7 linked regions of the Homo sapiens genome follow. The protein of the gene in region 2 interacts with the protein of the main gene of each other region in a pairwise test. Each region holds a gene or a part of one and is shown on either strand. Other genes may lie near its edges.

Region 1 (4,389 bases), on a different chromosome or scaffold from region 2:
GCCCACCTCAGCCTCCCAAAGTGCTGGGATTACAGGCATGAGCCACTGCGCCCGGCCTCCACACATTTCTAGAAGGCCATGCTCATACCCAGGGATGAACACATGCTCAGAGAAGATCTGAGAAGGCACCAAGCCCTCACCTTTGACTGACCTTCAGGCTCTGCATAAGAAGGAACTGAAGGCTAAGTCAGAGTTGTAAGATGCTTTAGCTGAGTTTTGAAGGCATGCTCCAACATGTAATTCAGATCCATTGGCAAAGACTGGTCATCTTTTGGGTTCCAGGTATTTAAAAAAATCTCTGACAAATTAATCCCAAGCTGAACACTAAGCTAACAGAACAGAGACTTCAGTGGCCACACATGACCAATACAGACGTTACAAAATTAGTTCAGAAATGTCACTAAACAAAGAAACAATACCAACTACAACAAACCTTGGGGAGGGGGGAAATCAGATTTAAAGAACTGCCATATTGTAATATTCTGAAAGTAGTTTTCAGCAAATAAATTATGAGGCATGTAAAGAAACAAAAAAATGGGCCGGGCGCGGTGGCTCATGGCTGTAATCCCAGCACTTTGGGAGGCCAAGGTGGGCGGATCACAAGGTCAGGAGATCGAGATCATCCTGGCTAACACGGTGAACCCTGTCTCTACTAAATATATAAAAAATTAGCGAGGCGTGGTGGTGGGCGCCTGTAGTCCCAGCTACTCGGGAGGCTGAGGCAGGAGAATGGCGTGAACCTGGGAGGCAGAGCTTGCAGTTAGCCAAGATTGCACCACTGCACTCCAGCCTGGGTGACAGAGTGAGACTCCATCTCAAAAAAAAAAAAAAAAAAAGAAACAAAAAATGAATGAAACTGCATTATAGGAAAAAAGAAATGAACAGAAATTTTCCATAAGGAAACCTAGTCATTGGATTTATTAGGCAACGACTTCAAATCAACTATTTCAAATATGCTCAAGGAGTTAATGGAAACTGTGTACAAAGAACTAATGGAAACCATGAGAATGAATTCTCACCAAATAGAGAAAATCATAAAGAGATGGAAATTATAAAAAGGAGCCAAATAGGAATTTTAAAATTGAAAAATATATATTATCTGAAATGAAAAATGTACTAGAGGGGTTCATCAGAAGACTTGATCAGGCAGAAGACACAATTAGTGAACTTGATGACAGGTCAATTAAGATTGCCTGATCTGTAGAGCAGAAATTAAAAATAAAGGGAAAAAAATGAACAGAGCCTAAGAAACCCAGAAGATACCATCAAACATCTGAATACACATAATGGGAGTTGCTACTGGAGAGGAGACAGAGAAAGGAGCAGAAGGAATATATGGAAAAATTGGCAAGGTGCAATGGGTCACGCTCTAATTACAGCACTTTGGGAAGCCGAGGTGGGAGGATCACCTGAGGTCAGGAGTTCGAGACCAGCCTAGCCAACATGGTGAAACCCTGTCTCTACTAAAAATACAAAAATTAGCTAGCTGTGGTGGTGCGCGTTTGTAATCCTAGCTACTGAGGAGGCTGAGGCAGGGAGAATTGCTTGAACCCAGGAGGCAGAGGTTGCAGTGAGCTGAGATCGTGCCAGTGCACTCCAGCCTGGGCGACAGAGTGAGACTCCGGGAAAAAAAAAAAAAAAGGAATATATGTAAAAATAATGGCCAAACTTTCCCAAATTTGATGAAAATTACAAGTCTACACATCAAAGCAGCTCAAGGATCTCCCAATAGGATACACTTAAAAACTCATACTGAGATACCTTAACATTAAACTGTCAAAAGCCAAAGACAGACTATCCTGAAAAATGGCAAGGGAGAAATAAGTCATCATGTACAAGATTAACAGCTGATTTGTCACCAGAAACCATGGAGGCCGCAAGCCAGTGGGATGATGACATACTCCAAGTACTGAAAGAAAAATATCAACCAAGAATTCTATCTCCTGCAAAACTATCATTCAAGATAGTAAAAAGGCAATCCACTGAATGGGAGGAAATCTTTGAAAATGATATATTTGATAAAGGTCTAGGATGCAGAACATATAAAGAACTCTTACAACTCAATAACGAAAAGGCAAACAATGCCCCCCAAATGGAAAAAGCACTTGAATGAACATTTCTTCAAAAAAGATGTATAAATGGCCAACAAGCACAAGAAAAGATGGCCAATCTCATCATTTTTTTTAGGGAATAGAAATAAAAACCACAATGAGACAGACAACCACAAGAATGGCTATCATAATTTTTTAAAAAAAGGAAAAGAGACAAATGTTGGTAAGGATGCAGAGAAACTAATACGTTGCTGGTCTCATGCACTGCTGGTAGGAATGTAAAATGGTGTAGCAGTTGTAGAAAAGTTTGGACATTCCTCAACACATTAAACACAGAATTACCACAGGACACAGAAGTTCCACTCCTAGGTATATACCCAAGAGAAAACAGGTGCTCAAGCAAAATCTTGTATATGAATGATCATAGCAGCACTACCCACAATAGCCAAAAGATGAGAACAGGCTAAATTTCCATCAGCTGATGAAATGATATATAAAAAGTGGTATATACACATAACGGAATAATATTCAACCATAAAAAGAATGAAGTTCTGCTATGTGCTACAACACAGCTGTACTTTGAAAACATCGGCCAGGCGTGGTGGCTCATCCCTGTAATCCCAGCAATTTGGGAGGCTGAGGTGGGTGGATCACTTGAGGCCAGGAGTTCAAGACCAGCCTGGCCAACATGGTGAAACCCCATCTCTATTAAAAACACAAAAATTTGCTGAGTGTGGTGGCGCATGCCTTTAGTCCCAGCTGTTGAGGAGGCTGAGGCAGGAGAACAGATTGAACCTGGAAGGTGGAGGCTGCAGTAAGCTGAGATCACACCACTGCACTCCAGCCTGGGTAACAGAGTGAAACTCCATCTCAAAAAAAAAAAAAAAAAAAAAGAAAGAAAACATTATGCTAAGCAAAAAGTGAGACACAAAAGACCACATTTTGTATGATTTCATTTATATAAAATGTCAAGAATTGGGCCAGGAATGGTAGCTCACATCTGTAATCCCAGCACTTTGGGAAGCTAAGGCAGGAGGATCACCTGAGCCCAAGAGTTTGAGACCAGCCAGGGCAACATAGCAAGACCCTGTCTCTACAAAAAATAAACAAATTAGCTGGGCGTGGTGGTCCGCACCTGTGGTCCCAGCTACTCAGGATCACGCCACTGCACTATAGCCTGGGTGACGGAGGGAGACACTGTCTAAAAACAACCCCCTCAAAAAGAAGAGACACATCTATAGAGACGGAAAGATTAGTGCCTGCCAAGATGTTCAGGAGGGAGAACTGGGGAGAGACCATTTCATGACTATGGGGCTTATTTTTGGTGTGACAACTATGTTCTGGAATTAGTGGTGATGGCTGTACTACACTGTGAACCTACGAAAAGCCACCAAATTGGACACTTTAAAATAGTTTAAATGGTGACTTTTGTGTCCTGTGTTACCTCAATTTAAAAAAAGAAAAAAAAGACTGACTTCCTGAGTCATTAAATAAATGCAGGAATGACATTAGGCTTACCCAGTGAGGCCAGGTTCCTGCAGTTCTCCAGCATCACGTCCCTGTACAGTGTCCTTTGGGCAGGGTCCAGCAATGCCCACTCCTCCTGGGTGAACTCCACGGCCACATCCTCAAAGGTCACCAAGCCCTAAAGCATTGCAAACATCACGGCTTAGCCAAGGACCACCCCCACCAATGTGCACAGGAAGAGGGGCCAGGAGAACAGAGCCAGGGCTGGGGAAACCTGAGCACGAGATGTGGGGGGATTCTGAGCTCCTCTCCTGAGGTTCTGAGCTCTTCTCCCTGGCTTCTGAGCTCAGCCCTCAATGCTTGTCTCCTTAGGCTACTCCCAGGTCCAGCGCACAGTACCGCAGAGCAGCTGTCTTTTCTCACTCAAACTGGGAGCTCCTATGATCTTATTTCCCTCAGTCTCCAGGGGATCATGGGCCCGTGACATGGCAGAAATCAGAGAAATACTTGGTAAGTGAATGAATGATTTCCGTATGGCCTTTATTAATTGCTTGGGTTTAGAACATCATCACGTCTTTACTTGGCTTTCCCTTAAAACTCTCAGGAGCACATGATGTACTCAGGGACTCTGGAGGGAGCTCTGAACCTGCAGTAAACGTTGACACACACTGACATTTTCTGGGCAGCCCTCACTCAGAGACCCTGGGATGCCTGAGGAACAAGTTTGGCCGTGGGGCTCCAGGCCACTGAAAGGCATCAAGTCCAACCTTCTGGCTGAAGGAATCATGATTTGGAAAAAGGAACATCCGACTCACCTTTAGCCAGCTTTTCAGGAGCTCATTAACCAGCTCTCCGCCCTCTGTGTGTCCTT
Region 2 (4,389 bases):
GCACTTTGGGAGGCTGAGGCAGGCAGATCACCTGAGGTCAGGAGTTTAAGACCAGCCTGTCTACATGGTGAAACCCTGTCTCTACTAAAAATCCAGCCTAGGTAACAGAGCGAGATTCTGTCTCAAAAAAAAAAAACAAAAAAAAAAACAAAAAAAAAAAAGGCCAGGTGTGGTGGCTCACACCTGTAATCCTAGCACCTTGGGAGGCTGAGGAGGGTGGATCATCTGAGATCAGGAGTTCTAGACCAGCCTGGCCTACATGGTGAAACTCCATCTCTACTAACAAATACAAAAATTAGCCGGGCATGGTGGCGGGCGCCTGTAATCCCTGCTACTCAGGAGGCTGAGGCATGAGAATCGCTTGAACCCGGGAGTCAAAGGTTGCAGTGCACACTGTGATCGCACCATTGCACTCCAGCCTGGGCAACAAGAGCAAAACTCCGTCTCAAAAAAAAAAAAAAAAAAGAAACCAAAAAAAAACCTAAATTTAATTTCTTTCCAAAAAGAATGACTAGAAGAGTCCTGTAACTTCAATTATTTGCTCCTTAATGTGATCAACTGAGAATTTAAATTGAGCTTCCTAAGAGCTTCATTTTCCTTTCTGCCTCAACGGCAGTAAAAAAAAAAAAAAAAAAAAAAATTAAAGTGGCAAGTTATAAGCAAGAGTATAGGAAGTAAAAAAAAAATTTTATTGAGAAGAATGTTTGCTTTGAAAAAATATTTCTCAAAACAACTTTCTTTGCTATTCTGAAATTTCATTAACATGACAGTATCTAAGGCAAAACCTAAATCATGTTTGTACTGTGATTGATGATACAGGCTTCCAAGGAGGGCAGAGTGACTCTGGGTTGGCAGTGACAAGTTCTGTTCTATTAATACTTGTGGTAGGCAGAATATGATGTCCACATGCCAATTCCCAGAAGCTGTGAACACATGGCAAAAGGAACTTTGCAGATGTGATGAGATTAAGGATTTTGAGATGGGAGAGTACTCTGGATTATCCAAGTGAGTCCAGTGTACTCATAAGAGTCCTTATACATGAAAGAGGGAGACGAGAAGGTAAATGTTAGAGTGATATGATGTGAGAAAGACTCAGCCATCGTTGGCTTTGAAGATGGGGAGGGGGCCATGAGCCAAGGAATGCAGTAGCCTCTGGAGCTAGAAAAGGCAAAGGAGTAGAGTCTTCCCACTGAACCTCCAGAAGGAACGCACCCTGCCAACACCCTGGCTTTAGCCCACTGAAATTTATTTGGGACTTTTTTTCCCACAGAGAGAGGGTCTTGCTTTATTGCTCAGGCTGCAGTGCTCCTGCATCAGCTTCTCAAGTAGCTGGGACTACAGGTGCACACTACTACACCTGCTAATTTTTAAACTTTTTTTTGTGGAGTGTGGTCTTTCTATGTTGACCAGGCTGGTGTCGAACTCCTGGCCTCAAGTGATTCTCCCACCTCGGCCTCCCAAAATGCTGGGATTATAGGCATCAGCTACCAGACGTAGCCTGTTTGGGACTTCTGACCTACAGAACTGTAAAATAATAAATTTGTGTTGTTTTAAGCCATTAAATGTGTGGTATTTTGGAAATTATCTATTAGTGATAGGGCCAACTTTAATAAAAAGAAAAGTTCATAACCCAACAAAATGGGAACTCATACTATTACTATTTAAATCTTATTTATACCCCAGTGTTTCTTCATGCTGTTTGTTTGTTTGTTTGAGATGGAGTCTTGCTCTGTTGCCCAGGCTAGAGTGCAGTGGTGTGATCTTGGCTCACTGCAACCTCCGCCTCCCAGGTTCAAGTGATTCTCCTGCCTCAGCCTCCCAAGTAGCTGGGATTACAGGCACCTGCCACCATGCCCAGCTAATTTTTTTGTATTTTTAGTAGAGACGGGGTTTCACCATCTTGGCCAGGCTGGTCTCAAACTCCTGACCTCATGATCCACCCACCCCAGTCTCCCAAAGTGCTGGGATTACAGGCATGAGCCACCGCACCTGGCATCTTCATGTTTTTATAAAGGCATCTTAGCATCATGCTCAGTTTCCAACATTTTGCTTTCAAAACAGTATCCATTCTCTATACACAATAAGGAATTGGAAGAAAAATATAAAAATAATCCCATTCTGATTTCAAGAGGGATGTTGAAGGATGGGGATGAACCCTGAGCTACCACGAGCTACCACGTATTTTTGTAAATCTGAAACCATGTTTCTTAAATCACTCTCATGTTGTTCTAATTTGTGTTTGTTCAACTTTGAGGGGAAGTTTCAGAAGAGGAAGTTTTACAACATAGATTACAAAATATTTAGCCAGATAACAGCTGGTGCCATGGTACAGGCATGGGCTTATCCACAGACTCCCGATCATTTTGGAGTTGTAACATTTTATCAAAATACGATGCTAAATTTTATTATTTCCATAAGGTAAGGTATAATTTCTTTTTGGTTATGATAAATTAAGACTAACTGTTTTGACAATTTTTGAGAGTTTCATGACCTCCTAAAATAACCAGAAGCATCTCTGTTCTTCCTGGAACACTCCTTTCCCAAAGATCCACTGCCTTACTCTCCCCTTCATTCTGGTGCTCAGGCCAAGGTGGGAGGACTGCTTGAGGTCAGGAGTTTGAGACCAGCCTGGGTAACATAGTGAGACCTTGTCTCTAGAATTTTTTTTTTTTTTTTTTTTTTTTTTTGAGACTGAGTCTTGCTCTGTCGCCAGGCTGGAGCGCAGTGGTGCGATCTCGGCTCACTGCAACTTCCGCCTCCCAGGTTCACGTGATTCTCCTGCCTCAGCCTCCTGAGTAGCTGGGATTACAGGTGCACGCCACCATGCCTGGCTAATTTTTGTATTTTTAGTACAGATGGGGTTTCACCATGTTGGTCAGGCTGGTCTGAAACTCCTGACCTCATGATCCACCCGCCTCAGCCTCCCAAAGTGCTGGGATTACAGGCGTGAGCCACAGCACCTGGCCGAAAAAATTTCTTTTAAATTAGCCGGATATGGTGGAACATGCCTGTAGTCTCAGCTACTCAGGAGACTGAGGCAAGAGGATTGCTTAAGCCCAGGACTTTGAGGTTGCAGTGAGCTGTGATCATGCTACTGCACTCCACCTTAGTGACACAGTGAGACTGTCTCTTTTTAAAAAAGAAAAAGGCCAGGCACGGTGGCTCATGCCTGTAATCCCAGCATTTTGGGAGGCTGAGGTGGGCGGATCACTTGAGGTCAGGAGTTTGAAACCAACCTGGCCAACGTGGTGAAACCCCATCTCTACTAAAAATACAAAAAAAAAAAAAAATTAGCCAGGCATGGGGGCGGGCACCTGTAATCCCAGCTACTCAGGAGGCTGAGGCAGTAGAATACCTTGAACCCAGGAGGCGGAGGTTGCAGTGAGCCGAGATTGTGACACTGCACTCTAGCCTGGGCGACAAGAGTGAGACTCCACCTCATAATAAATAAATAAAAATAAAAAATAAAAAGAAAAGTAAAAAGAAAAAAAATGTCACCTCCTTACAGAAGCCTTCCTAACCCTGGCCTGAAATACTAGCACCCCATTCCCCATAATCACTCACTATCCCTTCACTTACCACTGCCCAATGTTACACATCTGTTGATTTGCAGGGTTTTGGTTTTTTTTCTTTTTTTTTTTTTGAGACAAAGTCTTGCTCTGTTGCCCAGGCTGGAGTGCAGTGGTACAATTTTGGCTCCACCTCCCGGGTTCAAGCAATTCTTGTGCCTCGGCCTCCCGAGTAGCTGGGACTACAAGCACGTGCCACCACACCCAGCTAATTTTTATACTTTTAGTAGAGATGGGGTTTTGCCATGTTGGCCAGGCTGGTCTCAAGCTCCTGACCTCAAGTGATCCATCCGCCTCAGCCTCCCAAAGTGCTGGGATTACAGGCATGAGCCACTGTACCCGGCCTGCAGGTTTATTTTCTATCTCCTCTATTAGAATGTGAAATCCATGACATTAGGGCCTTTGTCTATTTTGTTTACTGACATTATTCTCAGAAATTGGACCTGTGCCTGACACCTAATGATGCCCAGTAAATATTTGACTGCAAAAAAAAGTACTTCACAAAAAAGGCAAGGTTGGTAATCATTTATAGATATCATTAATATATTAGATGCATAACTACTGTACTGTACAATATTTAGAAATATAAACATCGACTACTTTTTTTTTTTTTTTTTGAGATGGAGTCTTGCTCTGTCGCCCAGGCTGGAGTGCAGTGGTGCCATTTTGGCTCACTGCAAGCTCCGCCTCCCGGGTTCATGCCATTCTCCTGCCTCAGCCTCCCGAGTAGCTGGGACTACAGGAACCTGCTACCACGCCCGGCTAATTTTTTGTATATTTAGTAGAGACAGGGTTTCACCATGTTGGCCAGGATGGTCTC
Region 3 (4,389 bases), on a different chromosome or scaffold from region 2:
CCTGAGGTCAGGAGTTTAAGGCCAGCCTGGCCAACATGGTGAAACCCCGTCTCTACTAAAAATACAAAAAATTAGCTGGGCGTGGTGGCGGGCACCTGTAATCCCAGCTACTTGGGAGGCTGAGGCAGGAGAATTGCTTGAACCTGGGAGATGGAGGTTGCAGTGAGCCGAGATCGTGCCATTGCACTCCAGCCTGGGCAACAAGAGTGAAAGTCTGTCTCAAAAAAAAACAAAACAAAACAACCCAGTAACTTGTGTGCGTGTGTAATCTCCCCGTAGCCAGCATTCCTGCCAACTAACAACACAGCCCTGCCCAGGCTGGTTCCCCTGATATTAGAATATGGCTACACCTCTGAAGGCAAAGCAAACATAAAATGATGAATGGATAGCTCCTACAAGTATTGTCAGACGCTCAGTAAATGCAAATCCCCACAAATATTTTAAAGTAGGATGAAAGCAATGCTTTGGAAAGATGACTCTGGAATGGATATGTGTTTCTTGAAAGAGAGACAGCGTTGAGGGCACTATAAAAGGTTCAGCTGAGGCAAAAAAGCCTTGAACTGGGCTGTTAAAAATGGAAATGGAAAAAAAAGGTAGAGTTGAAAGAGATGAAAAATTAAAGAACTAAAGCAGGTAGTAATTAAGAGGACGTGGAGGGAAGTCAATATGATCTGTTTTCTGCTCTGCAGTGCTCTTGGTCACAAATTTGACTGTCAATCCTAGAGAAGATCCACCCTCTCTGCTTAGTCTCCCTCAACTAATCCCAGAGCACGATGCTCTTGTGGGTTTTGTTTGTTTTGCTTTGAGACAGGGTCTCACTCTGTTGCCCAGGCTGGAGTGCAGTGTCACGATCATGGCTGACTGCAGCCTGGACCTCCCAGGCTCAAGTGATTCTGTTGCCTCAGCCTCCTGAGTAGTTGGGGCTACAGGCATGCACCACCATGCCCAGCTAATTCTTGTACTTTGTAGAAGTGGGGTTTTGCCATGTTGCCCAGGCTGGTTTCAAATTCCTGGGCTCCAGCAATCTGCCAGCCTCAGCCTCCCAAAGTGCTGGGATTACAGGTGTGAGCCACCATGCCCGGCCCTGCTCTTGTGTTCTTTAAATTTCTGTAGACACTAATATGTATCACACAACCTAGCACTTGATGATATATCCTATTTTTCACTGCTCCTCTCCTAGACCATCATACATCTCACTCAATTTTCATCTTTTATTTATTTAATTATTATTTTGGAGACTGAGTCTTGCTCCTTCGCCCAGGCTGGAATGCAATGGCACGATACCAGCTCATTGCAACCTCCGCCTCCTGGGTTCAAGCAATTTTCCTGCCTCAGCCTCCTGAGTAGCTGGGATAACAGGCATCCACCACCATGCCTGGCTAACTTTTGTATTTTTAGTAGAGACGGGTTTTCACCATGTTGGCCAGGCTGGTCTCAAACTCCTGACCTCAAGTGATCCGCCCACCTCGGCCTCGTAAAGTGCTGGGATTACAGGCGTGAGCCACCGCGTCCGGCCCATTTTCATCTTTTGTGATGCTTACTGGGAAGGACCTATGAAGATCCTACTACTCATTTGCAGAACCATCAGCCTCCAACTGGTCATAAATCATGGTTTTAGAAAAATTCATCTATAATTTTTTTTGTGGTGATTCTTAAAAACCTTTTTCATCAGTTTGATTTAGAACATCGGTTTCATCAGTTTGTCTCTCTCACACTCCAAGTCTCAGTTTTTAGCTGCATTAGTAACTGTTTAACCAGCCATTCTTCTTTTGGAAAGCCAGGTCCATTGTTTAATACCTTAAGTCATTATGCAGGTTTATGGTTTTGTCCAGTTAATATTCAACATATATGAAAGAATACTCCTTTACATGTGGGAGTTTCACTAGGCATAAAAACTTAAATCCCCCCCAAAAAAGGGCTGGACAAAGTTTGACAATGCGGGACCAAAGAGAACACAGTGTGTGGTCTCAGGGCAGGTGTCCCAGGGAGCAGCCTGGGGAACTGAAATGAGGCGTGGAGCCCAGCAGAGGAAAGGGGGAGGTCAGACAGGCACAGGCACCACCTTGGGCATCTATCTTCCTCATTACACAAAATACGTCTGGCTCCCTCTCCTTTTCACAGAGAGCCAAATTTTCCTTTCATAATCAGAGAAAAAAAGTTGATTTCTATGATTTCTACTCTCTAGAATTTGGGGAAATCTCAGGAAGAGATTTCTTACTCATTATTTTTAAATTTCTTGACCCCAAGTGTTCCTTCTACTCTTGGAAATATGATTAAATATTATAATACAATTTACCCTGTCTATTAAAACAATAATCCAAAAATAGTATGACTAATACTTCTAGAATTTGAGCAACAAAAGAACCTAGATGGCAAAAAGTAAAATTTATATTTCATTTCTCCTTCCTTTAATTCCTTCACTCTTTCACCATATACTTATTTTTTGAAAGAAGATCTCATTCTGTTGCCCAGGCTGGGGTACAGTGGCACAATCACAGCTCACTGTAGCCTCAACCTCCCTGGCTCAAGCAATCCTCCCACTTCAGCCTCCGGAGTAGCTGGGACCACAGGTGGGCACTATCACGCCAGGCTAAGTTGTTTATCTTTAATAGAAGTGGGGTCTCGGGGTCTCCCTATTTTGCCCAAGCTGGTCTCAAACTCCTGGGCTCAAGCGATCCTCCAGCCTGGGCCTCCCAAAGTGCTAGGATTACAGATGTGAGCCACTGTGCTGGCCTCATCATATATTTATACAGTGCCTACTATAGGCCTACTTCCATTTTAGGGTGCTGAGAATATAAAGATGATTGAGCATTCACAAAAATCTCAAAGTCCAGAGGGAGAACAGATAAGCAAATGAATAGCCACAATATATTTTTCTGATAGAGACACTCACACAAGGCTGCTATCTGGGGCACCTAAGCTAGACTGGGAAGGAAGTGGTCAGAAAATAGGTGGTATCTGAGCTAAATCCAGAATTATAAGTAGTCAGACAAAAGTAGAGCTGCATATGTAAAGGTGTGGAGTGGGGGAAAAGAAGGAAAGAGAGAGAGAATGAATATGGATAAATATCTTGCATTAAGGAAAGTAAAGAGGTTCCAGGTGGTTTGGGTATTGGTATGTGGGTATGTTTGGGGATGGTGGTGATGAATGGCAGAGAAGAGTAGAAGGAGAAGAGGCTGAAGTGATAAGCAGAGCTGAAAACACAATGGGGCTTGTAGGTCATGCCTAAAAGCATGAACACTTAGTGGAATTATGGAAGGGTTATAAACAATCACATGTGGAAAGATAATTCTGACAGTCCTAGAGAACGGTTCTGACTGAGCAAGACCAGAGGCAGAGAGCCCTGTGTAATGGAAATGGAAAGAAGGGTAAAAATTCAAGACCCATCATAGAAGGAAAAATATGGCTTGGTGATAGGTGACTACAGAGGGAGAAGATAAGAATGACTTCCAGGTTTGAAAATAGTAGACTACAGCAGGAGGAGATGGGTGGAAGTTGAGGATAGGGAGATGATGAGTTTAGTTTAGGATATACTGAGTGTGAAATTTCCAGGAGGTTGTTACATTTTCATATAGGTCCAGAATTTGGCATCAAGGATGGAATTGCAGACAAAACTTTGAGAACCATAAGGATAAAAGTGAGGTACACAGAGCCTCTCTGGAAGAGCATCAAGACTTGGAATAGAAGGGTTACTGAAGATGCCTTCTTTGAGCAGGCAGAAAGGGAGCACGCAGAGAACACTAACAAAGAATGGCTGGAGAGGTGAGTGGAAAACCAGGGGAAGCTGGTGCCCTGAAAACCAAGGGATGAGAGAATTTCATGGTGTCTCAAACACCACCCACAGGTTGAGTAATATAAGCAGTGCTTATATTACTCAATATAGTGTCTGCTTAGGATGTAGCAGATAAGGCCATCATTGCTACATTTGTCAGGAGACTGTTTAGGTGGAATGGAGGGGACTGAAATCATATTGCAGTGGGTTGACGAGAGACTGGGAAGTGACAGGGTGGTTCAAGAAGCAAGGGACACAGAGATGGAGGGAGAGAATGCCAGTTGTTGGAGGATGTCAGATAATAATTTTGTTACTGTTAAAATCATTTTGCTAAAACTGTGGCTATCACAAATCCTAGGCTATGGTAGGCATTCCATAAATTTTGAATTACCTGTTTAAAAGCCTTTATCAGCTTTTTCCTCCATAAACAATGACCTGATACACTTTCTCTTTTTTTTTTTGAGACAAGGTCTCACTGTGTTCCCCAGGCTGGAGTGCAGTGGCACAAATCTTGGCTCACTGCAACCTCCATCTCCTGGGCTCAAGTAATCCTCCCGCCTCAGCCTCTCGAGTAGTTAGGACCACACGTGCACACAACCACACCCAGCTAATATTTG
Region 4 (4,389 bases), on a different chromosome or scaffold from region 2:
TCTATCATGTTTTTCTTTACAATGAACATGTACTGTTTTATAAATTTGTTTAAAAAGTAATCAAGACAAACTAAGAAAGGACACCAACGAAGCGGGACTCCCTGCAAGTCTCCTGGGACCAGCCAGGGTGGGCCAGCTTAGTGGGAGGATTCTCCTTGGTGGCGGTGACTGGGGTCTCCCTTGTCTGAGCTGCATTCTTTCAAGAACACACTTATTGCAGTCAGCTGCCCAGGACTTGTGGAGTGGGTCATCTGGCTGCTCCTGTGACCTTCCATGGTTTTCTTTCTGAGAAGCAGCATTTTACTTGCTGGATACCTACTCTGGAAATTTGTCTCTGAATATGAATAGCATCCTTCTAAGACCTGAGAGTGAGAACCTCGCAGACTGCAGAACACTAAGCCACGTGATGAGAATCATCTGAAGAATGAAGCCGTGCTGTATTTACAGAACATTTTTCTTAGTGCGTCATTAACAAGAAATATTAGATCATAACAACATGAAGAGCGCTCCTGCCTCTGTGCTTGTCTCAGAGGCAAGCCCTGCCAGAAGCCAGCCCTCCTTCCCTCCTCTCCCCTGCAGGGGTGGCTGGGTGGCGGGGCGGCCCAGGACAGCAGTCTCCTCCCCGGCTCTGGCTAGCTCCAGGCAGACAAGTCCAGGGCCCGGCCCCTCCTGCCTCCTCAGCCGTGGTGGACGCCTTACTTGCCTCCTTCTTGTGAGGGAAAACCAAGGACCCCTGCTGGCAGATCGCCTCCCCGGGGTGAGGATGGTATGAGGGATGGCACAGACAGAGGACGTGTGGCTCCCACAGCGTGTCCCAGGGGTCCCGGGCTCTGCTCTCGTGTAATCACAGCCCCCCGCCAGCCATTCACAGCCCTGTCACTGGAGCCTCAGCGTCAACGCTGTGGACGTGGGCGAAGTGTGAGGGAGTAAGCGGAGAAGCGTGGGCTCATGATTCCTGAGCCGGACCAGAAGCTGTAGGTTCTCATGGCCCCACGGGCATGGGCTGTGGACTGTTCTTGGAGGAGACCATGGGTCTCTGGGACAGGAAAGTGGGCAAGTGAGCCCGTGACAGGTCCCCAGCATGACAGAACTGAAGGTGTGGGGTGTAGGGCGGGGAGAGGGCCTCTGTGACAGACCTGTGTGGTCCCCACCATCCAGCGTGGCCCTCGTGCCTGCCCAGCCCCTCCTCAGCCTCTGCAGAGCTGGGCCGGGAAGAGCCCCCCGCGCTGTGCCCACTGTGGCCCGCGTTGCACCCTCAGGCTGCACAAAGGCCACGTGTTACCTGTCGTGAACCTCGGCTTGGTGGGGGGCTCCTGCACAGACACGGGGAAGGTGGCAGACGCGGGTGAGGACTGCGCCCGGGACAGAGGCCTGTGGCCGCCGAAGGACACGGGGATGCCGGCGGCCTCCATGGACGCCTGGTAGTTCCTCAGCTGGTGGATCCGCTGCTGCTCCAGCAGGAGGGCTTGCTGCGGGGAAGAAACGGCCGTGTTGGCGGTTGCGGATGTCTCCCGCCCCTGGGCTGCAGGGCTAGGGGTTGCCCTCTCTTGCAAGTCTCCCGTCCACGCACAGGCCATACATGGGCCACAAGGATGCCGGGAGGCCAGCTGCGTGGAGAGGCCTTCCCTGTGAGTGCCCTGAAGCCTGAGTGGGCCCAGAGCCAAGAACGAGGCCAGCACAGGCTCTGCCTCCCAGGACGGTCTCTCTAGGGAAGGCAGGCTGTCCACGTGGGATCCTGCCATGGGTTACGTTAACAGGATAACACAGGTTGAGTCAGGGGGTCCCAGGGAGGCCTGGCCCAGTATGGGGTATCAAGGAGGGCTTCTCTGAGGAGGTGCTGAGCCAGGAGCAGCCTGGAGCAGGTGCAGGGGAGTAGGGCCTGGCAGGTGTGGAGAGAAGCTCTTGCTGGGGCGGCAGCCTGGCCCTCGCTGGTTTCACTGGGGGATATGCGAAGGCCATGTAGATGTGGGGACCACAGCGTCCACTCTGCCATACCACACACATACGGTGAGTGGGCACGAAGCCCAACCCCCTTGTTGGGTTTGTGGGTCTTAGTTCTGACCAACAGCATTGAATCTGCATGCCAAACTTGGGCGAGAAAGCACCATCGGCTCTCAGACTTGAAAGTGCCAACTGGGCTTCATCTGCAGCCGCTCCCCTCCCTGGTCTCACATCCCACACACCCTCGTGCAGGCTAAAAGCAGTAACAGCCCATCAGCTTCTGGGCACCCAGGACCTTTGGGGCCTAGAGCAGGCCTGCTGGTGGGGATGTGCCTCTCTGATGAGATGGAGCTGGGCTGGGCTCTGTGTGTGGGGGGGGCACTCAGCCAGGGGCCTGGGACACCCTGAGGGATTCTGGGAACAGGCTGAGGTGCAAACCCCCATACGAGGCAGAGTGGAGTGGAGGGAGCAGGGCAGAGATGAGGTCACAGCTGCCAAGCCTCTCCCCAGACAGCAGCTGAGGGAGAGCACAGCAACCTGCCACCCAGGCCGAGGCACAAAGAAAGCCGGGCGCCTCCTTGCTGGGAGCTCTGCGCCAATCCTGTCTTAGTTTTGATGAACAAATCCTGTGAACATGGAAAACCAGGTACCTACATCCCAGCTCCTGTATGAAGGCAGAGCCCAGCCCTGTGCTGCCAGCACTGGGGGAAACCAGAGCTACCCGGCCAGGCTCCGATCTGTCCTGCCTTTAGGAATCAGGCTGGGCGTGGTGGCTCATGCCTGTAATCCCAGCACTTGGGGAGGCTGAGGCGGGTGGATCACCTGAGGTAAGGAGTTCGAGACCAGCCTGGCCAAAATGGTGAAACCCCATCTCTCCAAAAAAACAAACAAACAAAACAAACAAACAAACAAAAAATTAGCCAGGCGTGATGGTGGGTGCCTGTAATCCCAGCTACTTGGGAGGCTGAGGCAGAATAATTGCTTGAGCCCAGGAGGCGGAGGCTGTAGTGAGCTGAGATGGCACCACTGCACTCTAGCCTGGGCAACAGAGTGAGACTCTGTCTCACACACACACACACAAAAGGAATCAGAGCCAGGAGGGAGCAGAGAAGAAGGAAGCCCTGAGACAGTGGGAGGAGCTGCAGCAGGAGCTGGAGCAGGAGCCAGCACCCACAGGCCCCCAGTCTGCTGCTGACCAAATTCAGCTGGGATTGCCGTGGGCCCCACGCGGTTAAGTGGTTAATAAGCAATCCTCCCCGACGCGGGCTGGAGGTGCCCCGCCTTATGTTTACCTCGGCAAATTGCTCCGTGTACTACGACGTTTCCCTGATAAGGGGTTCTGCCTATTACTCTCCAGAGAGAACAGAAAATAAGTGTTTCTAATAATCATCTCATGCTTGGAATATAACAAGCCTCTTTTTCTCAAAGTAAAGGCTGATCTATGAGAAACTAGCCCTAAAAATTATTAATGTAAATAGTTTCCCATTTCTTATCAGCCTAATAATAGCACACTGAATTTCAGATCTTCATCAACTTACAAGGCCCGACCACAGGAAGAGGCCCCCACCCTGGGCCTGTCGGACAGGACCTGTGGACGAGTGTTCACCATGAAGCACCGTGTGTGTGCCAGAGAGGCCCGGGGCTTTCTCTCTCTGTCTTTGCCAAGCGTTAGTTCTGCTGGGCTTTGTAGTGTTTAGTGCCCGGGGTGCTAATTAAGAAGGCCCAGAAATTAGAGACAGGCCCCCCTCTGAACAAGAAGGAGAAATAGCACCCAATGCCAGCCACTGGGGGAAGCTCGGTGGAGAAGGGCTCCTGACCCAGAAGCCTCTGGAGACCACTGAGCACTGATCCCGTGTGTGGCAGGCTTGGGTCTAGGTGCTCCAGGTACAAGGCCCCACACTGATTCATTCAGTGGCAAGCATTTAAGAACTGTAGCTGAGAATTAAGGGGAACAGTTTACTGCAGGGCGTCCTGCTCCTGGCTTCCAAGGTGCTGCTGGGGGTGGAGATGCAGCGTCTGGCCACACAGCTGGCAGTCAGGAAGCTGGGGAGGTGCTCAACGGCACGGCCGGCATGGAGTCCAGAGAGAAGGGAGGGAACGAGCCAGTGGCTCCTGCAGCCGAGGCAGCAGCTCTGCTGCTGGAGGATAGAATCAAATCCTACAGAGCTGTGGTTCCTCGGACTGGCTTCCTGCCTACAGGGAGGAAGCCACTTTCCTGAGGGCACTCTAGCTGCAGATACGGGGCTCCAGCTGGCTGCCCAAATGCCTTAGGTATTTCTGCTGACTCAGAAGTTTAATGTTTCAATGGAAATTAACCAGTCATTCACTGGCCTTCTTCATCAGTCTCCTGTGAGTTTGGTTACTGGGTGTCAGTGCCCTGAAGCCTTACTGGCTCTGGGTGCCACAATCGCACCCGTCTGTCTGGATCTGCAGGGCTGCTCATTAGCA
Region 5 (4,389 bases), on a different chromosome or scaffold from region 2:
AACTCAGCAGAGCCCGCAAGGCCCCGGCCTAAAAGTCTGGCCCCTATACCCAACCCTAGCCCTCCAGGCCCAGGCCTGAGCTCTCCACAGCGGCTCTTTCTTGTCCTCAGGGTCTCAGCTCACAGGACCTTTTAGAGCAAGTAACCCCCTGCCCTGCCCCCATCAACGCCTTCTCTAATTGACGTTATTTTCTCCATAATCCACCGGCTACCTAACACTGTCATATCTGGGTGCACTGCAGTCATGAGGAACATGCAGCCACTATTTGTGAAATGAAGGAATCCTCAAGACCAATGATAGGAACGTCATTATGCCCATTTTTCAGATCAGGAAGCTGAGGCTCAGAGAGAAGTCAACCATGAGGGCCCTCTACTTCCTGGTGAGTAAGCAGCAGCTGCTCAGTTTGAACTCGGGTGTGCCTGAGGCAGCGCAAGGTGATGAGGGGCTGAGGCTTTCCAGTCCATGCAAGGCCTCTAAGGCCAAGAGAAAGGTCAAGGACCCTTGTTCTCTGAGCAAGAGTGTCTTAAGGAAGTCTGGGGCACAGCAGCCCCAGAGACCCTCAACTCCAGCCCAGCAGGGACAGGAGGGGCAGAGGAGGGAGAATAGAGGGCCACCCCCTCACAAACCACAGGTGCATGTTCCACTGTCAAAGCCCATCCAAAGGCTCCCTGGCCAGCTTGGGGCTAAGTTGGGAGTCCAGAGGGGCCCCCTTCACCAAGCACAGCTGCAGTGACCACCCGGGATATGCTATGTGCCAGGCCCTGAGCTGAGGACTTCACATCTGCTGTCCACTGCTGGCAGTCACCCTGTGACTGTCCCCATTTTGTGAATTGAGGAAGCTGGGGCTCAGGGGCTTCAGTAACTTACAACCTTGCAGCTGGGACTGCAGACAGCTAGGATTTAAACCCAGGAAAGGCTCAACCCAAATTGAAACAGCTCGTCTCAGACACTGTGGCCTGAGAGAAGGGGACCTGATGGAGGTCAGTCATGCAGAAATGGGTTAAACATGTGACATGAAAAGACATACCTCACACAAGTGACAGGTGCAAAACAGAGGCTTTAATCTGAACAGCAATGAGGGTGCAAGGGGCTGGGAGCCCATAGGGGGATGGGGGAGCCAGGAAGGGCTGTCTGGCCCTGGGAGAGAGGTGGACGCTGGGCCTCTTCTGAGAAACTGTCACTGACCTTTGGGACTCCTGACCCAGCCTCTGCCCAGACCATCACCGGATCCCAGGCTGAGCCCCTGTGCTGTGCTTCTCAGTGCTCCCCCTTCCTGAAGGGTGTGTGGACCCAGACACAGGAGGGGGCAGTGGAGAAGGGCAGGCCTGGGGGACGAGCCTGTAAGAGCCAGGCCCAGGAACAGCCCTAGGAGAAACCTCGGCGGTGGCCCTCAATGGGCCTGCCCAGCCCCCACTGGGCCCATTCTGAGTGCCAAAGCCTGGGCTTGGGAGGCTGTCTCTTACCTCACCCTATAAAAGCAATGGACAGTTCAGGGAGGTGGGAGGACAAGGTGTGGGACTGCCACCTTCTGGGCCCACCCATCACCCAGGGGAGCAGAGAAGCAGGGCCCAGGGGCCCAGGGTGAGGCTCACAGCAGCGCAAAGGTAGCAGAAGTGGCCGGGCCTAAGACTGCCAAGAGGAATCCAGGCTCTCCAGATACAATGGGCCCCAAGCCCCTCCCTGAGTTTCTGCCATCCCCTCCCTGCCAGGGAAAGTTCTGGAAAGACATGCCTCACCCCATCATCTGGGCCCTCCCAGGAGCCCAGCACCTACCCAAAGGGCAGCTTCCATTGGCTAGGTTACCCTTAGGGAGCGGGAGAGATGTGGCTACAGTCAGGAAACCCAGCAGAGCCAAGGGCTAGAGAACTGAAGAGCCAGGGGGAGGCTTGGACACAGGGGGCCTCAGGCCCAGGGGGCAGGGTGAAAAGGAGCCTGGGAGGGGCACCAGCCAGGACAGCTAAGGCCTCTCCACCACCCGACCCCACCCACCCCACCCCAGCCCACAGCTGGCGGCCAGCCTCAGCTTCCAGCCCTACCATAGATGGCCACCCCGGCATGGCCTGGGAAACTGACCCGCCCCTGCAAGGAGCAGCTCCAACCCTTAGAAAGGCATCGACTCCAGGAAGGGAAAAGCAATGGAAGCAGCAGGTATCTCTCCTCCCTTCCCTGCGGTGCTGCAGAACAGCCCCTGCTCTCAAAACCAGACTGGACGGGAGTGAAGGGAGAAGAGGCCAGAAACAGGAGAGAGTGGCCGAGTGACCAGGCCCCAGACCCTCTCTTCTGGCCAGTCTAGCACACGGGAACTCAGAAAACTGGCTACACTTTGGTCACTTCTCCCAACTTGGGCCCTGAAGCCTTATGCTCTGAGCCCCCTCAAGCCCATCTCGCCACCCCACCCCAGTAAACAGCCTCTCATCAAACGGGACGAACAGAGGGAGGGGATGGGGAGGGGCCACTGCTGGGGTGGGGAAGGCAGGCACAGGAACTGTGGCCTGGGTGGCTCTTCGGCTTGGCCCCTCCTAGCCCGACGTGACAGGATGGATGGGCAGCAGGCTCCCGAACTTGAAGTGCTGGATCACAGGGAACTTCTCCAGGCACTGTGAGGAAGGAGCAGGTGAGCAGAGTGGTGAGGGCCACACCACACCCCTGCCAGGACCCCAACAACCGCAGCAGCTCCCAGGTGTCCATCCCGGGCCCAGGAAGTAGCCCCGCCAGGGGATCCCCCAGGCCTTCCTCCCCCAGTTCCTCACTCCTTCTATCCAAAGACACCCACTCCACAACGAGACCCACGAGAGAGAGAAAGAGAAAAGGCAGCCCAAACCTACAAGGTAGAAACCGAGAAGAGAGGCAGCCAGGTGCCATCACTTGGCCCAGAGAGGGAAGTTGGGAACCTGAGGTGGAAAGAACCCTCCTGATCACTGGGGACCCCCAGCCCAGGTCCCAGTTCTAGAGAAGAGACGTGGGGACATTTGAACGTAAGCCTAAGAGGCTGAGGCCGGGTCCCAAAGCCTGTTTTCTCCAGCTTTCAGTTCTCTGGACTGAAAAAGGCATCTTGGCACTTCAGAGCGAGACAATAAGAACCAGCTGACACTGAGTTCCCCCCACCCCTGGGCAATTCCCAGCAGCCTGTGTGGGGGGCAGGGGAAAAAGAGCGCTGAACAGGGGAATGGCTGAGCACGGGGGAGGCCCGACTCCCTGAGCCCAGCCCAGCCCGGGCTCCTAGCAGAGGAGCAGAGCTGGAGAGCAAGTGACAGGGCCTATCACAGAAGCTGGCCTGGCCCACAGGCAGCCAACCCCAGCTTCCAGCTGCAGCTCCCGCAACAGCACCCCCATGCCTGCCACACCTGGACACTAGCTCTCACAGGAGCCGTTCTGGGCATGCGAGGGTTGGATCTGCCAAGACTGACCAGGGCCTCCTCCCACACCTTTGGCCACAGAAAACAGAGTATGTTAGGCACCTCCTGGCTGGGGTGGAACAAGACTTATGGCCTCAGAGAGAGTAAGAGCCTCACTCTGTGGCTGTGATCTTAACCTCCAACTAACTTAGAGACAAACGGGTGCTATGACTGGCCCAGGTTCCCTCTCCTCAAAAATCAGCTGTGGAACCTAAGAGGGAGAAGCACCAGGGTGACGAGTGGGCCAAAGAGGCGCCAGGAGGGGAGGGAAAGAAGGATGGAAACCAAGCTCATGGTGGGGTGGGGAGCAGAGCCCTGGCCACAGCCAGGATCCTGGGCCTGAGACACAGAATGCGGGAGCAGGGAGCGGGAGGTGGTCCCTGGGCGGGAGGGGGAGCAGCCGCAGATCCAGGCCAGAGGCCAAGGCAGCTGCCATGGTGCTTATGTCATCCCAGAAGTGGTCATAAGAGCCCCCCCACCCCCCAAGGGCCCTGGAATTCCAGAAGGGGTCAAAGGTCAACCTCCCTCTAGCTCCCATAGAAGAAGTTGCAAGGCGAGAAGGGGTGGAGGCAGGGGTTCTTCCCATTCTGCCCACAGGACCCCAGAGCCAGCCCCCTCAGAGCCACAGGAGCTGGGCCAAGGAAGCCTAAGGCTCCAGGGCAGGAGGAGCCTCCAGCCCAGCCTTTCTCCCAGCAAGGCCCTCCCATGTACCTGGGCGGAGCAGCGGCTTCAGACTGCCCCCTGACCTTCCAGCCAGAGGTGATTCAAGCTGGGGAAGGGACTCCCTGGGTCCTGACAAGGTCCTTCTGAAGGCAGCACCCACACAGCCATGGCCCAGAGGAAAGACAGACCCTCCCCCCCGCCGCCCCGCAACCACACAAGGCCCCTGAGAGCACTTGGTTCTTCGGTCAGAAAGGCTGGGACAGAGCAGAGTTAGACCCAAATCCTGAGGCCACCTACTGCCAGGCTGGTCAGACTTCTGTGGCAGCCCAGG
Region 6 (4,389 bases), on a different chromosome or scaffold from region 2:
ACTGCGGTCAGGGCAGGACATGGGGCACAGTGGCATGGTTGGTCCTGGTGTGCAGCTGTTTTTTATGGGGTCTTGCTCTGTTGTCCAGGCTGGATTGCAATGGCGCAATCACGGCTCACTGCAGCCTCAACCTGCCAGGCTCAAGCCATCCTCCCACCTCAGCCTCTCGAGTAGCTGGGACCATAGGTGTACATCACAATGCTTTGTAGAGATGGGGTCTTGCTACATTGCCCAGGCTGGTCTTGAACTCCTAGGCCCAAGTGATCCTCCCACCTCAGCCTCCCAAAGTGCTGGGATTGCATGCATTAGCCCCAGTGCCCAGCCTCCTGCATTATTTTAATGCTTCCATTATGTTGATGTACATAGTAGCTAATTCCCCACCAAGGAGCATTTTGGTTGTTTCTGGTTTTTCCCTCTTACCTAAAAGCTGCAACGAGTGTTTTGCACTTTTGTGTCACTGTGGTCTTTGTTCTTATAAGTGGGATTTTTGCCAAGTTGTATTCCAAAAAGTTGTGCAACCAGGTGTATCCGAGGGCATGTGGTGGTGGCTGGGTCTCCCTTTAGCCAGAGAGAAGCTCCTAGGCCTGTGCAGTGTCTGAACCACCCCTCGTGATTATCCCCAGTCTGTTCCAGAAATAATCCAGGATCTTCCCATCTCTGTCTTGAGAACACTGTGTAGAATCACGAATGTCTATGTAGAAAGGAAAGGGAGGGCAGGCCCCTCTGTAGGCTCTCATTGCAGAAGGACTCTGTCCAGCCCAGCCACGTGCCGCCCTCTGCTTCCTCTAGGAGGCAGACAGGCGGATCCTGCAGGCCCTCCTCGAGAAGGAGGACGAGAGCCAGCGCCTCCACCTGGCCAGGCGGGAGCAGGTCATGGCCGATGTGGCCTGGATGAAGCAGGCCATTGAGGAGCAGCTGCAGCTGGAGCGGGCGCGGGAGGCAGAGCTGCAGATGCTGCTGAGGTGAGTGGCAGCTGCTGACTGGGCTGGATGCTCCTGGCCTCAACTCTGATACCTTGAAATGCCCCATGGGTCACCTGTTACTGAAATATCTATTGGCTGGGCGTGGAGGCTCACACCTGTAATCCTAGCACTTTGAGAGGCCGAGGCAGGTGGATCGCTTGAGCCTAGGAATTTGAGATCAGCCTGGGCAACATGGCAAAACTCCAGGCTCTACCAAAAATACACAAATTGGCCAGGCGTGGTTGTTCATACCTGTAGTTCCAACTACTCGGGAGGCTAAGTGGGAGGATCACTTGAGCCCAGGAGGTTGGGGCTCCGATTAGCCATGACTACACCACTGCACTCCAGCCTGGGTGACAGAACGAGACTCTGTCTCAAAAAAAAAAAAAAAAAAAAAAGAAGAAGAAGAGATAGCTGTGTATGTTGTCCATCATTCCTGAGGAGCACATCTTCATAATGGACCTGGCCTCTGGGGGTGTTTCCCTTGTATTATCTGAGGTGGAAATCATTAAGGTTTAGAGTAACGATGTGTTCATCTGAAATCTTAGAGGTTTAGAAGGAAATTATTTTTTTTTTTTTGAGATAGAGTCTTGCTCTGTCACCCAGGCTGGAGTGCAGTGGCATGATCTCGGCTGACTGCAATCTCTGCCTCCTGGGTTCAAGTAATTCTCTGCCTCAGCCTCCCGAGTAGCTGGGATTACAGGCGCCCGCCACCACACCCGGCTACTTTTTGTATTTTTAGTAGAGATGGGGTTTCACCATCTTGGCCAGGCTGGTCTTGAACTCCTGACCTTGTGATCCGCCAGCGTTGGCCTCCCAAAGTGCTGGGATTACAGGCGTGAGCCACTATGCCCAGCCAGAAGGAAGTTATTATAGAGATGTTGAATGCTGCTTACATCTATAAAACTGAGTTTGGGTCCTAAAGACTAAACTAGTAGATTGAAATCATCAAATAATAAGTAGCATACATTGAGCACTTACTGCATGCTGGACACTGTGCCGGGTGCTTTACAGGCCTCATCTTACTGAGTCCTGACATCCAGCCAAGTGGTGGCTTGTGAGACCCGGAGACTTGAAGAGGTCACTCCGTCCAGGGTGAGCTATCAGTGACACAGGCATGCGGTGGCAGGGTTCAGGCACAGGCAGCGCCCTCCTCTCCATGTTCTGATGGTTTCATTCATCTCTGTGTTAAACAGCCACGGTGTAAGTCATCCCAATTCCTTTTTATAAGGAGATGGGGTATTAAAAGGGTAACTTAAAATACTTCCAACAGGGCCAGGCACGGTGGCTCACGCTTGTAATCCCAGCACTTTGGGAGGCCAAAGCAGGTAGATCACTTGAGATCAGGAGTTCAAGACCAGCCTGACCAACATGGTGAAACCCTGTCTCTACTAAAAATACAGTAATTGGCCAGACATGGTGGCACATGCCTGTAATCCCAGCTACTCAGGAGACTGAGGTACTAGAATCGATTGAACCTGGGAGGTGGAGGTTGCAGTGAGCCGAGATCGCACCACTGCACTCTAGCCTGGGCAACAGAGCGAGACCCATCTCAAAAATAAAAAAAATGAAAAACTTCCAACAGTACTTTCCGTGGATGCTGTCCTTAATTGTAATCTTTTCAAAGTGCATGTGGATGTTTATCTGCAGTGTGGTCCTGCAGAAGCCATGTGCCCTGCAGCCCTGTCTGTTCCGTAGCTCGCTTCCTGCCAGGGCGGGGAGGAGCCTGCTGTCATCCCTTTTGTGTTTGCCCAGGGAGGAGGCCAAGGAGATGTGGGAAAAGAGAGAGGCAGAGTGGGCCCGAGAGCGCAGCGCACGGGACAGACTGATGAGCGAGGTAATCCCAGCTGCGGCGATGTGGACCGGCTGTTGGGTCTTGGGCAGGTGTCTGGAAGTCCATGGTCAGTCACCCTGCCAGATGCTCTGGGAACAGAGTCTTCTCTGGTCATTTTAAGTGGGCTTTAAAAATCATTGAAAAAGTAATATGAGCTTAGTAGAAAAGAATTCAGAAGTACAGGAAGTAGAAATGGAAAAAAGTCCCCCAGAGCCCATCCTGTATGCAGCCGTAGCTGCTGCTTCTGTCTGCTCTTCTGTTTCTATGCCTGACATTTTTTCTACATGTATTTCTTACTGTCTTGTGCTATTTGGCTTCAAGCGTTGTGACATGCTGTTACATCTTTATAAACGGCATGTCAGGGGCTGTATCACGGACTGTCCTCTGTCACCCGCTGCCTTTCCATTCCCTCTTATGGGTGTGCTGTGTTGTTCTAATTGGAAGCCATTCTGAGAAACGCTGCAGAGAGCCTCTTGGTGCCTGAGGCTCTTCCCACACGTTTCCCCCCTCGGGGTAGATGACAGCCGTGACCTGGAGGACATAACTGCTTTCCTGGTCAGTGTGTACACTGTGCGTGGAAGATATACCCCAACCGCAGAGAAATCTGGGAGGAGAAGAGAGAGTGTTACCCATGGGCTGAAAGCTGTTGTAAAGTGGTTTCAAATGAGAAACTCTACGTTGTGTCTGGTAGTATGCTGTATTTTGGAATCCACAGGAAATTGGGTCGTGATTGGTGATGTTTTGCTCTTGTAAATACCAAGAATTCTCCAGTGCCTTTTGATTTTCCTCATTTAAATTTCCCTCCTGATGGCGGCCACTTTCTGTTCCCCCCAGCCCTGCAGCCTAACTGTTGAGAGTGTCAGGTGGTTTTCTGCTCCTGACTGTGGCCTGGGCTGGAGTTCAGATGTCACACGGCTCTGGGGCCAGGTCTCAAACACAGCAGGTTCAAAAGGTTAGAGGACCACCCCAGCTCCACCTCTGGTCATCTGTGTGGCTTGTGGCTCTCTTGTTTTTGGAACCCGCTGATAGGAAGGAGACTCACCTTGTTGCTCCAAGGTTTCTCTGGCCCCGGGGAGACAGCTCCATCCCCATCTCCTTTGATTTCTTTGGCACTCAGCTGTCTCTCCATAGTACACAGTCTGGATACATTTTGTGTGTCTTGGGTTGCGAGGGAAACATTTCTTGTATACTGGCAAGCGTGGCCGACATCGTGAGAGCAAATCCTGTCATCTGGCTCTGCCTCTGCGTACCTGGGCCTGAGGCCCAAGGATGAGGCTGGGCCTTGCTGTGGCTGCAGCCTGTCCAAGGCTTGTAGAACCAGGATCTGTTAGGGTCAACCTCAAAGCTGCCCTTTTCTTTCTGCTGAGGTTAGGTTCTGACAGGGAGACAACAGCAAATACAAGAGAAGATTGAGCAGAACCGACGGGCACAAGAGGAATCCCTGAAACACAGGGAGCAACTTATTCGAAATCTTGAGGAGGTGAGAGAGTTGGCTCGTCGCGAGAAAGAGGAGAGTGAAAAGCTGAAATCGGCCAGGAAGCAGGAGCTGGAAGCCCAGGTAGGGCTGAGCCCAAGGGCGGGAGGCACCGGGCC
Region 7 (4,389 bases), on a different chromosome or scaffold from region 2:
AGTAATTTAGTGCTCAGATAAGATAAATATGTTCTCGTGTTGATTTCATGAATAAAGCAAATGTTTAATGTGGTAGGCATCTGATATCCAAGAGTCACAGCAGTGAAATATGGGATTTTGAAATAACTTCACTTAATCTGTATCTAGTTCTACCACAGGTTAAGTAATGCCCGTCAAATCAGGCTTGCATATGGGAAAATCTCCATGTACCATTAGTGTATAACATCAATATTATTCACATCCTCTAAGAACCAGGTAGTATATACAATTCAGCTCCACTTTTGGGTTATAATTAGGGAGAACATATAATTTATCATCTGAAACAGGAACACTTTTTCAGTTTAAGTATTTATGGTCTTGGGAGGATAAACACGAGCATATTACAGAGTGATACAACTTTTAGCAAATTACCTGCATCTTCTCAATGAGTCATAGTTTTGCCTTCCCAGTTTCCAGATTGTGCAGCAATTAGTGTGACAGTGTGATTATACTTTAGGTCCTTCTCCACATTTCCTGACTTCTTTTGGGCTCAAATATCCACCCGGGTCTTCCCCCGGCATAACAATTCTGGCCTATCCCCAAAGGGGAAGAGAGTGAGTCATTTGACTTGTGAGTTGCAGAGAAGAGATGAGCAGGTTTAGCTAAGCCTCACTGGGCTTTGTCTTGCTGATCTCCAGCAAGAAGGCCTTCTGGAATGATCTCCACCACATAGCAAGCTTTCTGGGCAGGTTCAGTTCTTCTCTGCGCTCAGGAGGAGGATTGGGAAGCCTATGGGTGCTCATAAATTGGGAGGAATTAGTAACAGGAAGCCCACGTTGGCCACAATTTAAGCCTCTTCCTCTAATCAAGCATGTCTAGGTAATAACGGTAATAGTGATCCCCATTTAATTTCGCCTCTACTTCTTAATTGGTCACATCTGTCATGCTGACTACTTATTTTCTACCTTGAGGTAGGCAGCTGTGTTTCTGTTTGGCCAAAGGCTTATGTGTCAAGGCTTAAAAGCAACAAAACACCAGGACACTTGTAGGAGCGAGATGGCACATGCTTGCTAATTGCACTGGGCTGGCTGGGTAAACAGGACCCATCACCCGTAGCCAGCACGCCTGGTGTTGATGCTTAACTGGACCCTCGCTTATCTAAAGAATGGTCTTTCCTCACTATGCCTCATCATCTTTGCAATCCTGTGCTGGATAGCCGTTTATTTAACTTGGCTTGTTTTGAGGTCCCTTTCACACTTGAGTATTTACTTCAGTAAATGGACTTTATCAACCTAATTATCATTCAAAAAAGGCCATTAGAATTGTTTTTCTTTTTCTCTTCTTATGTAAATCATTCTCTTTTTTAGATCCGTTATAAAGAAGAGTTTAAAAAGTCCAAGGATAAGTGTACATTTGTGACTGACAGTCCTATGCTAAACCATGTAAAAAATATCGGTGCTTTTATTTCTGAGGTAAGGTATCAAAAGCTTGCAAACTGGCTTGCATTTATCTTTTTCTTATTATATAGATGAAAGTCTGTGCATTAAAGAGATGAAGAATAATATTTTCAAAAGCACTACTGAATGTTAGTAATAGCTACATAATTATCTAATGTGATGCGCTGTCATTTAACTCATATAGATTGACAGATTTTACTATGTATGCTTCATACATTTTATTATATATGTCTATATTTTGACTCTAAATCTTTCTTATTTATATACGATTCCTCTTGAAAAGGCATCTTTTTATTAAATAAGTAAAAGCACTGGCACAATAGTTCACTTTAGAAGTTCCATTATTTTGTTTCCTAATAGATATATCAGAGATAAATGATTGAATATCATTTTGGAAATAAATAAGATTTACCAGTTTTCTAAAATGTGATATCTTTGATAAATAATTTTAAATGTATTTAAACTATTTTGGAGTAGGATAAAGTTCAGTTCAACAGTGATACCTATTATAAAATCACAGACTGAGGAATACGCTATATTCATTTTCCAGCTGAAAAATTATGTAGTTTCTTTCTGAGAGCATTTAGAACTACAGTTTATGTTGCATTGTAAAGCACAATGTTAACGATGATGATTTCTGTGGTGAGGCATTACTGTAGTCTGTGAATAGATCACTTAGAAGAGATACGTTTGAAAAGAAACGGAAATGAAATAGTGTTGTAAATGACTGACCTCTAGTGTTTCATAAATTATGTTGGAAAAAGATCAACTGGATGTCCTTGGGATTATTTCTGCTAATGCGAAACAATTTTGAATGAAATCAGTACGTTTTCTTTCATTAAGTACCAAAATCCAAAGAGTGTGGTAGCAGAAGGCTAGCACAGGATCTGTGCTCAATAAATCAATACTGAAATCTAGCTCTGAGCAGGAAGAACATCAGGAACTCATCTGCAGATAATGGAAGAACATAGTTTGTTTGTCTTAGCTATGTTCCATTCTCCCGTGCAGATAAATACTTGATGTTCTCAATTATTGATTATGTTTCCTGAAGGAGTTAATTGCAGAGCAAAATATTGGAAGTGAGCAATCTATTGTGTTCCCTTGAACCTTAGTTTTCCCAAGAGGAAAGAGTGTTTGTCTTTAGAGTAGTGACTGAGATGGCTTAAAGACAGTGCAGGCTAGAGGTGGGTAGGCACATAAACAACAAAAAAGCACTCACTCCCCTCTCCCCCTGGAGCAGGAGGAGGCTGAGAAGACCTGAATAAAAGAACACTGTCCTTTGTCAAGTTCTAGATAGTAGATTCTAACGACTTGCATTTTCTGGAACAACTCGAATTGTTTGCTCACTCATCCAGCATGAAACTGTCAATATACACAAATAGATTTACTTTTAGAAATGTGCTTGCATTTAAATAGAAAGCCATTATGTCCTTGCATGTCTCATTGAAAGCGTTCTCTATGATAAATTGGATTTATTTCTATCTCTTCAGAATCCTGGAGTTTGTCAGCTCTGGTATCTAAAATTAAAATGGTCTGCAGATTTTAAAATCAATTCTGTTTTGGGAGAAAGTTTCTTCTTTTCTACTTATAATCACAGTTTAAAAAAATGGAAGTTTATTTATTTATTTTTTTCCTGTTTTTTTTTCCCCCAGGCAAAATACAAAGGCACCATTAAAGCTGACCTTTCTAATTCTCTTTATAAGCGGATGCCAGCCACAATTGACAGTGTTTTTGCAGGAGAAGTTACACAGCTCCAGAGTGAGGTAGGGTTTTTCTAAAGTGTTTCATGATTTTGTAGATAAAACATATAACTGGAAAAAAGCTACTTAGCGTTTTAATAAAACGTTTTCATCATGGGTGTTAAATACCAAATGAAAGTTGAAAGCAACTGATTAATGTGCTGTCAGTAGTTGCTGTTGAAATTGCAGAAAATGAAAAGGACACGCAGGTTTATGTCAGTCACATGGTACTGTTTTCTGAGTCCCATTCAATGCAATTTATAGAGCAAATCTTAATCTCATTTAGACAGCTTACATGGATGAAATTCTTATAGTAAATATTAAACTGTTCTCTAATTTGATATATGATCCCTAAGTAGAGAATATTTGAATAGCTTGTTAAAAGCCACATAAAGAGATAATGGGGCTGGACACTCTGGCTCAGGCCTGTAATCCCAGTACTTCAGGAGGCCAAGGTGGGCAGAATGCTTGAGCTCAGGAGTTGAAGACAAGCCTGGGCAACATGGCAAAAGCTGGTCTCTACCAAAAATACAAAAATTAGCCGTTTGTTGGCATGCACCTGTGGTGCCAGCTACTCAGGAGGCTGAGGTGGGAGGATTGCTTGAGCCTGGGAAGTTGAGGCTGCAGCGAACCAAGATCATGCCACTGCACTCCAACTAGAGCAACAGAGTGAGCCTCTGTCTCAAAAAAAAAAAAAAAAAAAAAAAAAGGTTGAATTCAGGATCCACAGATCTGCTTCATCAATTAGACAAGTGTTTCCTGAATTTCCTTTTCTGTAGATTGTGTTTTTCCTTTAGGATATCTCAGGCTACCAAAAATAGCCCCCATCAGGTGGAAGTTACTATTTGGTGATTGCCAGTTGCAGAGGAACTTAAGAATTGTCATCAGGTAAACTCATTTTGAATCCAGAAGGGTTTAGGAGTAATTTTCTCTTTGTAGCATATCAACACATAAGGCATTCTTAATCTATTGCATTTCCTAAAACAGACTTTCTAAATGGAATGTTTCACCTCTTTCTGGTTCATCTTAATGTTGTGTTTTCTTCACAGAACAATCAAATTTGGGGAGGTTATTTTGTTAATCTATTCTTTAGCTCTCTCAGCTACGTGAGAGCAGGGACCTCATCTGTCTCGTTCCTTGCTCTGGTCTTGTGCTCGGAAGAGTTCCTGGCACATAGAGAGTGCTCAGTAAAAACTTGTAAAATGGATTTTGTG

What was found.
Region 1: the proteins of CCDC125 (region 2) and ZNF557 interact in binary tests that used the Homo sapiens proteins (3 or more experiments, as listed by UniProt).
Region 3: the proteins of CCDC125 (region 2) and PKP2 interact in binary tests that used the Homo sapiens proteins (3 or more experiments, as listed by UniProt).
Region 4: the proteins of CCDC125 (region 2) and HDAC4 interact in binary tests that used the Homo sapiens proteins (3 or more experiments, as listed by UniProt).
Region 5: the proteins of CCDC125 (region 2) and PTPA interact in binary tests that used the Homo sapiens proteins (3 or more experiments, as listed by UniProt).
Region 6: the proteins of CCDC125 (region 2) and TCHP interact in binary tests that used the Homo sapiens proteins (3 or more experiments, as listed by UniProt).
Region 7: the proteins of CCDC125 (region 2) and NEBL interact in binary tests that used the Homo sapiens proteins (3 or more experiments, as listed by UniProt).

What each region holds. Positions count from the first base shown.
Region 1 is NC_000019.10:7,075,688-7,080,076, reverse strand, and holds part of ZNF557 (zinc finger protein 557), read right to left. Parts: coding exon 4,334-4,389; intron 3,697-4,333; coding exon 3,570-3,696; intron 1-3,569. UniProt on the Homo sapiens protein: May be involved in transcriptional regulation.
Region 2 is NC_000005.10:69,315,314-69,319,702, forward strand, and holds part of CCDC125 (coiled-coil domain-containing protein 125), read right to left. Parts: intron 1-4,389. UniProt on the Homo sapiens protein: May be involved in the regulation of cell migration.
Region 3 is NC_000012.12:32,872,314-32,876,702, forward strand, and holds part of PKP2 (plakophilin-2), read right to left. Parts: intron 1-4,389. UniProt on the Homo sapiens protein: A component of desmosome cell-cell junctions which are required for positive regulation of cellular adhesion.
Region 4 is NC_000002.12:239,110,244-239,114,632, forward strand, and holds part of HDAC4 (histone deacetylase 4), read right to left. Parts: intron 1,470-4,389; coding exon 1,283-1,469; intron 1-1,282. UniProt on the Homo sapiens protein: Responsible for the deacetylation of lysine residues on the N-terminal part of the core histones (H2A, H2B, H3 and H4).
Region 5 is NC_000009.12:129,145,595-129,149,983, reverse strand, and holds the end of PTPA (serine/threonine-protein phosphatase 2A activator), read right to left. Parts: exon of another isoform or gene 2,598-4,389; coding exon 2,520-2,597; 3' UTR 1,038-2,519; downstream 1-1,037. UniProt on the Homo sapiens protein: PPIases accelerate the folding of proteins. It catalyzes the cis-trans isomerization of proline imidic peptide bonds in oligopeptides. Acts as a regulatory subunit for serine/threonine-protein phosphatase 2A (PP2A).
Region 6 is NC_000012.12:109,910,274-109,914,662, forward strand, and holds part of TCHP (trichoplein keratin filament-binding protein), read left to right. Parts: intron 1-789; coding exon 790-962; intron 963-2,717; coding exon 2,718-2,799; intron 2,800-4,168; coding exon 4,169-4,354; intron 4,355-4,389. UniProt on the Homo sapiens protein: Tumor suppressor which has the ability to inhibit cell growth and be pro-apoptotic during cell stress. Inhibits cell growth in bladder and prostate cancer cells by a down-regulation of HSPB1 by inhibiting its phosphorylation.
Region 7 is NC_000010.11:20,886,907-20,891,295, reverse strand, and holds part of NEBL (nebulette), read left to right. Parts: intron 1-1,346; coding exon 1,347-1,451; intron 1,452-3,088; coding exon 3,089-3,199; intron 3,200-4,389. UniProt on the Homo sapiens protein: Binds to actin and plays an important role in the assembly of the Z-disk. May functionally link sarcomeric actin to the desmin intermediate filaments in the heart muscle sarcomeres.